Linked DNA regions of Homo sapiens: regions 1, 2 and 3 are each reported to be linked to region 4. Evidence: microRNA targets listed by miRTarBase, many of them from high-throughput screens and not tested one by one. Region 4 holds a microRNA gene; each other region holds the end of a gene's coding sequence. Distances are from middle to middle.
Evidence for each region. The annotated mature microRNA hsa-miR-1825 reads UCCAGUGCCCUCCUCUCC and lies in region 4 at 936-953, shown strand. An mRNA with a match to its seed (bases 2 to 7 or 8) in the 3' UTR can be bound and repressed. Matches are read on the target gene's strand: a 7mer-m8 pairs with bases 2 to 8, a 7mer-A1 pairs with bases 2 to 7 and ends in A, and an 8mer does both.

Region 1: miRTarBase lists ADA2 as a target of hsa-miR-1825. Seed matches in the 3' UTR shown: 7mer-m8 at 988-994.
Region 2: the mRNA of SNRNP48 is a reported target of hsa-miR-1825. Seed matches in the 3' UTR shown: 7mer-A1 at 2,375-2,381 and 7mer-m8 at 3,048-3,054.
Region 3: miRTarBase lists SNAP25 as a target of hsa-miR-1825. The part of its 3' UTR that is shown has no 7-base or 8-base seed match.

What each region holds. Positions count from the first base shown.
Region 1 is chr22:17,178,893-17,182,055 of GRCh38, forward strand. ADA2 (adenosine deaminase 2) reads right to left here. Exons shown (of 10, transcript NM_001282225.2): 9 at 2,928-3,130; 10 at 1-2,684. The coding sequence ends at 2,591. Among named protein-coding and RNA genes, the nearest start is that of HDHD5-AS1, 21 kb to the left of the region's middle.
Region 2 is chr6:7,608,471-7,611,633 of GRCh38, forward strand. It overlaps SNRNP48 (small nuclear ribonucleoprotein U11/U12 subunit 48), which reads left to right. Exons shown (of 9, transcript NM_152551.4): 9 at 355-3,163. The coding sequence ends at 403. Among named protein-coding and RNA genes, the nearest start is that of SNRNP48, 20 kb to the left of the region's middle.
Region 3 is chr20:10,305,779-10,308,941 of GRCh38, forward strand. It overlaps SNAP25 (synaptosome associated protein 25), which reads left to right. Exons shown (of 8, transcript NM_130811.4): 8 at 351-1,640. The coding sequence ends at 419. Among named protein-coding and RNA genes, the nearest start is that of SNAP25-AS1, 88 kb to the left of the region's middle.
Region 4 is chr20:32,236,895-32,240,057 of GRCh38, forward strand. It overlaps MIR1825 (microRNA 1825), which reads left to right and starts at 901; the gene lies at 901-953. It overlaps POFUT1 (protein O-fucosyltransferase 1), which reads left to right. Exons shown (of 7, transcript NM_015352.2): 7 at 1-1,764.

The DNA.
Region 1 (3,163 bases), not on the chromosome of region 4:
ACCTAAAAGATCTTCAGGGATTGGGTAAGGCACTGAATCACCTGCAGAGTTAGACAGGACCCTAGAGGTTGTCTTCTTCCATCCAGGCACAGCTTATGGTTGCTGTTTTTTCCCAGTTCCAGGAACCAAATGGTGATAAACTAGGAATGGAGAGAGGGCTTGCTGCTGTCTGAGAGCTCAGGTACAGGTCATGGAAGATGGATGAGAGGACATTCGCCTGGGGCTTTTGAGGAATTCTTTGATTCCCTGCCATCCTTGAGTTGGGTGAGGACAGAGGTGGCTTCTTGCATCCTTCTTCCAAGGCCAGGTGAGGAGCTGGACTCTGATCACATGAGGTCTTTTATTTGGGGCGGCTCTGCTCTACTCCCCTCTGCCTTGGCAGCTGGCTGAACAGACACAGTGACAGCCACTCATTCAATGCATTGTTTATTGAGTACTAACTAGCTTTGGGCCCAGGCTCTGGGTTAGCAGCATGCGTGAAACAATCAGAAACAATCATGAGCGCCTGCCCACATGGGGCATACAGTCTGGCAGGGCAAGACTGTAGACACAGAAATAAATATCCGATTATAAGCTGTGATTAGAGGCATGATGGAAAAGAGCAAGGCTTCCTGAGAGAAACAGGGCGAGCACAGGAAAACCTCTCTGAGACAGTGACATGAACTTGAAACTTGAAGGGTAAACAGGAGTGGGCAAGACAAAAGGGGAAAGAAGGAATCTTCCAGGCAGAGAGAAAGAGAAAAGACCCAGGCACGGTATAGAGCCGAGGACATTTGAGGAAGAAAGGGCCGCCGGGGTTGGGGCCCTCTGGGTGACTGGGAGAGGAAGGCGCCGGAATGGATCCAGATTAAATCGGATGCTGTATGCCCTGTGGAGACATGGGGTGTACCTCTAAACGCACTGCGTTGTAAGCAAAGGAGTGACCTGATTTAATTTGATCTTTTAAAAGTCATTCTAGGCCAGGCCGGGTGGCTCACGCCTGTAATCCCAGTGCTTTGGGAGGCCGAGGCGGGTGGACCACGAGGTCAGGTGTTCGAGACCAGCCTGGCCAACATAGTGAAACCCCATCTCTACTAAAAATACAAAAATTATCCGGGCATGGTGGTGCATGCCTGTAATCCCAGCTACTCAGGAGGCTGAGGCACGAGAATCCGCTTGAACCCGGGAGGTGGAGGTTGCAGTGAGCCGAGATCGCACCGCTGCACTCCACCCTGGGCAACAGAGCGAGACTCCATCTCAAACAAAACAAAACAAACAAACAAAATGTCATTCTACACTGTGAAAAATGAGCTGGAGGAGGCAAAGGGAAGAAAGGGGAGATCAGTGAGGAGGCTGTTGTCATAGCTCAGGCAGGAGTATGGTAGCTTGGACTTGGCAACAGCGTGCAGGTAGAGCACCACCGCTGGAGTCTGGATGCGGGATGCATTCTGATGTAGGGAGTGGGGGACCGCGCAGCATCAAGAAGCCACCGCTGGAGTCCAGATGAGGGATGCGTTCTGATGTAGGGAGTGGGGGACGGCGCAGCATCAAGACTTGCACTGAAAATTTCTGCTTTGAGCAACTGCGTGGAATGGATGGAGGTGTCCTTCACCAGCTATGGGAAAGGCCAGGGAAAGGTTTAAAGGGCTGAGTGTGGTGGCTCATGTCAGTAATCCCAGCACTTCGGGAGACTGCGGCAGGAGGATCACTTGAGTTGGAGACCAGCCTGGGCAACATAGCAAGACACTCTTTAGAAAAATTAAAGTAGAGAAAAAGAAAGGTTTAAAGGGAAGAGACTGAGGGTTCAGAATTGTACCTCATCAGTTTCTGAGATTCCTGTGAGCTCTCCAAGTGCATAAATAAATGTGGGAATCATTAACAAATAAATGGTATGAAAAAGCAAAGGAATGGATGAGACCACCCAGGAAAAGTGTACAGAGAGAGAAGAGAAATAAAGAGGAGAGAGTTAAAGAGACCAGAATAGGCCAGGCATGGTGGCTAATGCCTGTAATTCCAGCACTTTGGGAGCCAAGGGGCGAGTGGATCACCTGAGGTCAAGAGTTGGATACCAGCCTCGCCAACATGGTGAAAACCTGTCTCTACTAAAAATGCAAAAATCAGCTGGGTGTGGTGGCACATGCCTATAATTCCAACTACTCGCGAGGCTGATGCAAGAGAATTGCCTGAACCCGGGTGGCGGAGGTTGCACTGAGCTGAGATCGCACCATTGTACTCCAGCCTGGGCAACAAGAGCAAAACTCCATCTCGAAAAAATACAAAAATAAAAAAATAAAGAGACCAGAATAGAAGAGAGCCCAGGACTGAGTCCTGAGGAAACAGCACAGAGATCAGAGAGAGGAGAAGACTCTGAAATAGGGAAACTGGAAGAAATGGCCAGAGACAGGAGAAAACCAAGAGGGTCAATGTCACTGTGGCTGAGAGAGAATATTTCCAGAGGATGAATTTGCTCAGCCAGCCAAGTGCTTCTCACAGGGTCGCTCCATACAGAGGCCATTGATTTCATGGGCACATGGAGCTGATTCAAGAACGAGTGAGAGGAAGTGACAGCGTGTGCAAGAAGACAGCTTGTAGAGGGCTGGCTAGCTTCTCCTCACTTTGTAGCCACATCTGCTATGAACTTATCCCATCTCTTCTTCCAGATTTCCATGAAAGTATTTTTCTCACTCTCCAACAGGGTACTGTACCTGCAGGAAGAGGAGGAGCCCAGGTCAGCCTCAGGGCAGGGGTTGGGGAACGGGGCAGGGAGCCTGAGAGGACATTAGAGCCTTGCAGAGCACTCTCCCCAGGCCAGCAGCAAGGACTAAACAGCCATGATGAGAAGGAACCCACAGGAACCATCGAGGCATCTGCCTCAAGCCTCCAGAGAGGCAAACACAAGCTGCGGGCTGGAAGGAGGCGGGGGACCTGGGAGGACACAGGACACTCACTTGATAGAGTTCATGGCCAGCTGTTTGAGGGTCCTCAGGTCAGCCTTCATCCCCCCAATGCCCATGAAGACCTCATAGAAATCATAGGACAAGCCTTTGGCACCAAACATAGCTGGGTCATCAGAGCTGATCACCATGGGGTGCCCAGTGGCCATCAGAGTGGCTACAGGGTGGTTCCTCAAGTCAGACACCAGTTTCAGCACCTGCGCAATAGGAGGGAAGGGAGAAAGATGAAC
Region 2 (3,163 bases), not on the chromosome of region 4:
TTGAATCCGGGAGGCGAAGGTTGCAGTGAGCCAAGATCGTGCCATTTGCGCTCCAGCCTGGGCAACAAGAGTGAAACTCCATCTCAAAAAAACAGAAACAAACAAATAAAAAAACTAAGAGACGAAACTGAAATAGGAATAATCAAAGTGATTTTTTTTTAATTACGCTTTGAAATTCTGCTTTAAAATTAACTTTGAGTATATGTAAATGATAACCAGAAAATTCTTTTCAAATAGAATGTTAAAGTAGCATATTACTGTTGAAAGTGGTGTATTACTGTTGAATTATTTTAAAGCTCTGATATTAAAATGTCCATCATTTATAACCATTTTTTTATACCTCTTTTATTTCAGGGATGGGGAAAGACACCATAGTCATAAAAGAAGAAAGCAAAAAATATAAATGAAGTACTTGTACCTATATTAATTATGCTTACGCCATGATAACCAATATACAGATATATTAATTGGAATTCCTTTGCATAGGAGAATGTTTTTATGATCTGTTTAGTGCTTATTATTTTTTTTATGATCTGTTTAGTGCTTATTATTTTCCAGTAAATATGCTTCAAACCATGAGTACACTATTAGGCCCTACAACTTTGTTTTCCTTATATTTTATTAGATGATTTGCTTCCTATAACTGATGTTGTTTTGTTCGTTTTGCTAATATATGTATCTCAAAATTCTTTAAGTCAATATTTATCATATGTAAATTAAACATGAATACATTCTCATCTTATAACTACATCTTATAAATAAGGCTAATAACCCTTAGAACACCACCTGCGGTTCTGTCCTCACCCCAGTGGTGACTACTGTTTACCACTACACTGGTGAATTGTAGTAGGGAAAAACAATCTAAATATTGAAGAGGAATGGCCTAATTAAAATATGATGTAGTCATAGGATAGATTATTGTATTGGAGTTAAAAGAAATAATCTAGATCCATATTAACCTGGATTGGTCTCAAAAACATAATGCTCAGTGAAAATAGCAAGTTGTAGAAAGTTATATACAAATTATATATATGTACAAAACAATACTATGCATTCTCTATGGCTATATAATGTACGTAAATCTATTTTTAAAGGTTCAGAGGAATCCATACCAAAGTTCTAACAGCGAGTAGGAGGTATAGATGAGAGATTAGGGGTGCAAATCAGGATTGGGAGGGTGGTCAGAGGGAACTTTAGCTTTATCCATAACATTAATTTTTTTAAAAAATAAGGTCTTAATGTTTCATTTAATTTAAAATATACTGTCATGTTGTGTTTTGTAAATCAACTGAATTGAGGTACTATTTACTTAGATTTATTGCACCCTTTTTACGTGTGTATTTTATTGGGTTTTGACAGATTCATACCTCTGTGCAGCCACTATCACGATCAAGATACAAATATTTTCATTGCCCCCAAAATTCTCATACCCCCTTTCCCAATCAATTCCTCTACCCCTAGCCCTAGGCAGCCACAGATTTGCTTTTGGTTACCGATTAGATCTATCCATTGTAGAATTCATGTAAATAGAATACTGTAGTATGTACTTTGCCTTCTTCCTCTCTGCAGATTTTTGAGATTGATCCCTGTGTGTCAGTTGTGCATTTTTTTTGTTGCTGAGTAGTATGTTCTATCTTATGTCAGATCATTCACGTGAGACTTTGGCATGAAATGTTAAGCATCCGACATCTAAATAGCAATATTTTGAATACTGGAAACTCAGGTTAAAGATTTTGTTTCCAAGTAGAAATGAAATCTTATTATTTTAATAAGTAGCTGACAGTGACAGAAAGATTGGATTTGGATCAGATTGGCTGTTAGGCTTCAGGTATGGGAAACAGCTCTCAGATTTATAAATTGGAAATCACCAGGTTACTTGCCAATATATAGTCATATTGCTGCCATTGTACTTAATTTCTAAATATATAAAATCCACATTTAAAAATTATAAAAGCAAGGACTTGGGAGTGACTGATGAATCATGAAATTGCTGCTTTTATAGATCAAAACTACTTGAATCATCAGGAATTTCATATTTTTCATATTGTGTGACAACTTATAATTTTGTTTCAAATTGTGATTTCATTGATTTTACTAACTGGAAGGAAGAAGAGTAAAATTGGCATATTTAGGTTTTTTGTAGAAGAAAGATACAAGTGAAAATTAGGAGTGGATTGGAGAAATTGGGGGGAAATAGAAGAGTACGGAGAAAGGAAGAGATTGAAAATGTTACCAGAGTTCTTTAAAGCTCACATTTTATAGTATCACTGCTACAAACTATTTAATGAAATGTGGCATCGGGTGAAAAGAGGCATTTGTTTGATCCTTGAACGAATTAATCTCACGTACTTCCCTGTTTGTGGTTTGAGCCTTTCACTGGATGTGAGCTACTTGAGAGCAGGGTTTATGCCTTCATCAGCGTGACCCCTGTGCCTGCAGCCTCATAGGTGTTAATCTGTAATTTTAAATTTTGACAAAAGCATTTTCACAGCCCTGCCACATAAGATCTAGTTTTTATTTCTAGAGTGCTGCTATGAATAATTACTATAGCTGCTGTCCATCTTGCCCATCCATTAAGGTACCTTCTCACAAACATTTCTAATCTACTGGCTGGAGTGCAGTGGTGCAGTCTGTAGCTCACTGCAGCCTCAAACTCCTAGGCTCAGGCGATCCTCTTGCCCTGGCCTCCCATGTAGCTGCAACTATAGGTGTGTGCCACTACACCTGGCTAATGTTTTTAGTTTTTTAGAGATGGAGTCTTGCTCTGTTGCCTAGGCTGGTCTTGAACTCCTGGGCTCAGATGATCCTCCTGTCCTCAGCCTCCCAAAATGCTGGGAGCCACCAGGCACCAGGTGTGATCTACCACACCTGTCTAAAAAGTATGTATTTTTAAATTTTTTTGTAGAGACAGGATCTCACTATGTTCTCCAGCTGGTCTCAAGCTCCTGGCCTCGGCCTCCTAAAGTGCTGGGATTACAAGTGTGAGCCACTGTGCCTAGTCACTTTAATTGAGATATTGGCAAGTCAACTGCCATGCAGAGCCCAGGGCACTGGTTATATTCAGTAGGAAACTGAACTCAGCACTCAGAATTTTAAATTAAATCAATGATCTTCAAGTATTTGCCACTTTCGAGTACAGCTAATTGGATAATCTCAAACCCTT
Region 3 (3,163 bases), 22 Mb from region 4:
GAATGCCTACCACAGAAGTCATTGAGTGTCTTTCTAGGATAGAAAGATAAATCATATATAAGCCTACGCTCTCTGGTAGGGAAAATTATTAAAAATGAAAATTAAAAAAGCAATGATTCTGAAAAAATATATTCGTTCATTAAAAAAAAAAAATGAAAATTAAGCTTCTACGGTCACATTCAAATAGAGCCATAGCCGTCATTCTGGGAAGACAAAAGAAAGGATGGCCCATGCTGACCAAGGAGGTTTTAAGTGGTTTCACCCAAGAGGAAGCATTGGACCCGGACCCAGAAGGGTGAATGGATTTTTAAGGGGTAACCTGAGTTCTGTTTCTTTTCCCCCTTTTCTAGGCTGATTCCAACAAAACCAGAATTGATGAGGCCAACCAACGTGCAACAAAGATGCTGGGAAGTGGTTAAGTGTGCCCACCCGTGTTCTCCTCCAAATGCTGTCGGGCAAGATAGCTCCTTCATGCTTTTCTCATGGTATTATCTAGTAGGTCTGCACACATAACACACATCAGTCCACCCCCATTGTGAATGTTGTCCTGTGTCATCTGTCAGCTTCCCAACAATACTTTGTGTCTTTTGTTCTCTCTTGGTCTCTTTCTTTCCAAAGGTTGTACATAGTGGTCATTTGGTGGCTCTAACTCCTTGAGGTCTTGAGTTTCATTTTTCATTTTCTCTCCTCGGTGGCATTTGCTGAATAACAACAATTTAGGAATGCTCAATGTGCTGTTGATTCTTTCAATCCACAGTATTGTTCTTGTAAAACTGTGACATTCCACAGAGTTACTGCCACGGTCCTTTGAGTGTCAGGCTCTGAATCTCTCAAAATGTGCCGTCTTTGGTTCCTCATGGCTGTTATCTGTCTTTATGATTTCATGATTAGACAATGTGGAATTACATAACAGGCATTGCACTAAAAGTGATGTGATTTATGCATTTATGCATGAGAACTAAATAGATTTTTAGATTCCTACTTAAACAAAAACTTTCCATGACAGTAGCATACTGATGAGACAACACACACACACACAAAACAACAGCAACAACAACAGAACAACAACAAAGCATGCTCAGTATTGAGACACTGTCAAGATTAAGTTATACCAGCAAAAGTGCAGTAGTGTCACTTTTTTCCTGTCAATATATAGAGACTTCTAAATCATAATCATCCTTTTTTAAAAAAAAGAATTTTAAAAAAGATGGATTTGACACACTCACCATTTAATCATTTCCAGCAAAATATATGTTTGGCTGAAATTATGTCAAATGGATGTAATATAGGGTTTGTTTGCTGCTTTTGATGGCTATGTTTTGGAGAGAGCAATCTTGCTGTGAAACAGTGTGGATGTAAATTTTATAAGGCTGACTCTTACTAACCACCATTTCCCCTGTGGTTTGTTATCAGTACAATTCTTTGTTGCTTAATCTAGAGCTATGCACACCAAATTGCTGAGATGTTTAGTAGCTGATAAAGAAACCTTTTAAAAAAATAATATAAATGAATGAAATATAAACTGTGAGATAAATATCATTATAGCATGTAATATTAAATTCCTCCTGTCTCCTCTGTCAGTTTGTGAAGTGATTGACATTTTGTAGCTAGTTTAAAATTATTAAAAATTATAGACTCCAGATGATCTGCTTTAATTTCTTCATGGACTCGTCTGATTTTGCACTCACACGAGAAGAGAAAGCCTGGCTACCCTATCCCAGCTACTAAAAGCCAGTTCTGTGCACCGAGGACAGTGTGGGGGAAAATAGAAGATTTAAGCATGATTCCAGTGGCAACTGACAACTTGGCTTGATTCTCATAACCTGCTCCAGAATTACTTTGTGAATTCAGTGTTGACTAAGGGAGAAAATGTAGTTATCCAGAACACATAGAAAGAAAAATTTATAGGAAAAAAATCTATGGTACCCAGGCATGGCCCTACATAGATTCAGGTATATCTGGTGTCTGTCAACTCCAATCTTCCTTCCTTTCCACAAAATCCCCACCATCTAAAATTGAGGGCTTCACTACCACACCACCACTGACTCCATGTTTTTTTAAACAGCTTTACTGACTCACTATAAAATTCATCCATTTAAATATATAATTAATTTCTTTTGTATATTCACTGAGGTAGCAATCTAATTTTAGAACATCTTTATCACTGCCGCCAAAATACCCCATACCTATTAGCAATCACTCCCATCTCACTTCTCCCAGCCCTAGGGAATTACTGGTTTACTAGTTATCTCTATAGATTTGCCTATACATTTCATATAAATGGCATCATACAATGTGTGGTCTTCGGGAACTGGCTTCTTTCACTTAATATAATGTTTTCAAGGTTCCTCCATGTTGTATCACAGATCAGTACTTCATTCTTTTTTAAGGCCAAATAATATTCTATTGTATGCATAGATACTATTTTGTTTATCCATGTATCAGGTTATGAATATTTGCATTGTTTCTGCTTTTTGACTTTTTTTTTTTTTTTTTTTTGAGACAGAATCTTGCTCTGTCGCTCAGGTTGGAGTGCAGTGGCATGATCTCGGCTCACTACAACCTCTACCTTCCGGTTCAAGTGCTTATCCTTCCTCAGCCTCCCAAGTAGCTGGGATTACAGGCGCCTGTCACCACGCCCAGCTTTTTTTTTTTTTTTTTTTTTTTTTTTTTTGTATTTTTAGTAGAGAGTAGGTTTCACCATGTTGTCCAGGCTGGTCTCAAACTCCTGACCTCAGGTGATCCACCTGCCTTGGCCTCCCAAAGTGCTAGGATTACAGGCATGAGCCACCACGCCTGGCCACTTTTTGACTATTATGAATAATGCTGCTATGAACATTGATGTAAAAGTTTTTGTGTAGACATAAGATTTTTTATTCACTTGCCCCACAGTTTTACCAACATCATTGCCTGTCCCACCACAACCACCACTAACACCTCCACCGCCATCACCTCCACCATCACTATCCCTACTCCTACTAACACCACCACTGCCTCAATTATCACCACCTTACCTTTTCCACTGGCTCTACCACCTCCACACCATCTTAACCAGCATGCCCATTACCTCCACCTTTATTACCACCACCATTATAATCACCATCATCACCTCCATCACCACCACCGCTCCCACTGCCACCATCACCACCACCACCTGACCATC
Region 4 (3,163 bases):
TCATAATTTTCCCAAGGCTGCCCAGCTGGTGGTGTTAAGCCAGAATTTGACCTCCCAGAGCCAGTTTCCATTAGCTGCCATGCTCTGCTGCCTCTAATTCACAGAATGCACTTTCTACCCTGTGTGCCATGGAGACCTCCTATGGAAAAATGATCAGCCACCTTACCTTCTACTGGGTACCTGCTGTGAGTCTGCCTATGCCAGAAGGATTAAGGAGGGGAGGTTACCCAAGAAACAAAGCCTACATGCCGCTTACAGCCCCCGTTGGATGGTTGCTCAGTACAACAGTCTTGCATTCAGCAGGTGTTTGTTCATCACCTACTATGTGTCAGGCTCTATGCTAGGTACTGGGGATACAGGAGAGAATCAAGCGTAAAGTCTTTGTTCTCAAGGAATTTGCATTCTAGAAAGTAGAAGATGTAATAAATGTACTGTGGGACATGTTAATAAGTGCTATAAAGAAATATAAAGGGTTTGGGAGCAAAAAGAGGGAGTGGATCTATTTTAGATGAGCCCAGGTAAGACCTCTCTGAAGAGCTGTCATGAAGGAGGGAGGGAGCACATTCCTGGCAGAGAAAACAGCACGTGCAAAGGCCCCGAGACTGGAGTGTGTTCCTGAAGAGCAGCCAGGAGGCCAGCATGGCTGGAGAGGCAGGCATAGGCAGGGAACCGAGCAGCAGGTCAGAGCAGGCGAGCTGACATTCTGCAGCCTGGACGGCCATGGCAGGAAGCTTTTAGTTGGAGAGATACAGGAAGCCTCCTAGGGTTCTGAGCAGAAGAGGGGCATGAGCTGATTCACATTCTGAAGGACCTCTCTAGCTGGCCAGTGCTGAGGAGGTTGGAGAGAGAAAGGGTGAAAGCAGAGAGACCAGTGCAGGGCTGTTAACAGGGTTGCAGGCGAGAGACTGGGGTGCTGGGCTCCCCTAGACTAGGACTCCAGTGCCCTCCTCTCCCAAGAGACAAAGGCCATTGCATTGAAGGAGGTGGGAAATGATTAGATTCTGAACATATGTAATTATTTTTCAGTCTTTTTCAAAGATACAAATATTTACATAGTTTTAATCATGTAATATATACAATTTAATGTCCTAGTGTTTTACTTAATAGTGTATCATGTTTTCCCTGTTGGTATGTAGCCTGGATAAATGCTCTTAATTATAAAAAATTCTGTCGAGGAGTGTTCCATAGTTTATTGTTTTCCTATTATGAGAATTTAGGCCAAGTGTGGTGGCTCATGCCTGTAATCCCAGCACTTTGCGAGGCCGAGGTGGGCAGATCACTTGAGGTGAGGAGTTCAAGACCAGCCTGGCCAACATGGTGAATTATCTCTACTAAAAATACAAAAAAATAATAATAATAGCCAGGCGTGGTGGCACATGCCTGTATTCCCAGCTGCTTGGGAGGCTGAGGCAGGAGAATGGCTTGAACCTGGGAGGTGGAGGTTGCAGTGAGCCGAGATGGTGCCACTGCATTCCAGCCTGGGCAACAGAGCGAGACTCCATCTCAAAAAAAAGGAGACTTCATGTGCCCCCAATTTTTCACTATTGTTATTTGAAAAAATATTTTTATTTGTAAGAGTTTTTCTTTATTTAAAATGTTCATTAATAAAGTTGTTGGACGGGAAGCAAAAAAAAAAAGTTGTTTAAGATAAATTCCCAGAAGTGAATTTGTTAGATCAAACACTTAAAACTTTTTGTTATGGAAGAATTCAAATATAAATAAAAAATTGTGAGTAATAAAATGAACTCACAGTTTCAACAATGACCCACATTTTACCAGTCTAGTTGCATTGACTCTCCCACACCCAAGTCTGTTTGCTAGAGTCTTCAAGAAAACCTAAATGTGTTTTGAAAGAAGAGCCAACAGGATTTGCTGACATGCTGAATGTGGACTGGGAAGGAAAGAGGAGCCCAGGGTGCTCCAAGATTTAGGGCCCAGGCACCAGGGAGTTGTCCCTGACTTGCAGAGTGACCTTGAAGCAAATCCCTTCACCTCCGCATTCCTCACCTCAGCATTACAGGTGCTAATGGTCTAGGCAGTGCTTCCCAAAGGGTGGTCTTCAGAGGTTCCTTCCAGGGCTGGTTGATATGGCAGATTCCCAGGAGCCACCCTGAACCTGAGAATCAGAATGTCTCGGGGGTAGTGCCCAGGAATCTGCCTTTTCACAAGCACCTGCAAGTGATTTGGATGCCCAGTGGCCCAAGACCTGAAACTGTGGTCGTCAGACCAGCGGCATCAGCATCACCTGGGGGAACTTGCTAGAAATGCAGAATCCCAGGCCCCCGCCCAGAACCACTGAGTCAGGATCTCTGGGGACGCAGCCCAGGAATCTCTTAAGCTCTCTTGGGGCTAAAACTTGAGCAACACTGATCTGAAGGAAGTGGGGATCTCACTGTGTGGTCATTCAGCCCACGGTAATGGAAGACCTCTGCAGCCCCTCCCTGGCAAGCCTCACGGGTTCCACCAGGCATGGTCAACAAGGTGGCTTTAGGAACTGCCTGCTGCCCAGTTTGTACTGACCTACATCTCCTATTGTATATTTGTAGGGGCTTTACAACCAGATGATCAAATCTCATTGTTTTACGGTCAGCCCAAATTTATATATAAGAAAAGGAAGGGAAGCCTGGGCGCAGTGGCTCACTCCCATCATCCTAGCATTTTGGGAGGTTGACACAGGCCAATCGCTTGAGCCCAGGAGTTCGAGACCAGTCTGGGTAACATAGGGAAACCCCGTCTCTACAAAAAAATGCAAAAATTAGCCAGGCATGTGGCATGCATCTGTAGTCCCAGCTACTCGGGAGGCTGAGGTGGGAGGATCACTTGAGCCCAGGAGGAGGTCGAGGCTACAGTGAGCTGTGATGGCACCACTGCACTCCAGCCTGGACATTGGAGTGGGACCCTGTCTCAAAAGAGAGGAAAAAAAAAAGGGAATTCAATTTTTCAAAATTAAAAGGGAATTCCATTTTTCAAAATCTGCATCTGATTGGATAGAGAAATGGAGAAGCTGGTGTTCAAAGGAACCAAAGCTGGAAACACTGTCCTGAAACATTGTAGATCTCCAGACATTTGGAAGGGAGGGGAGAGAGAATAAGAAAATAAAGAAGAAAGAGGAGAAAGGACAGAGGGAGGAAGAAAGAGTTGAGTTCTCATTTCTATTTTCTGT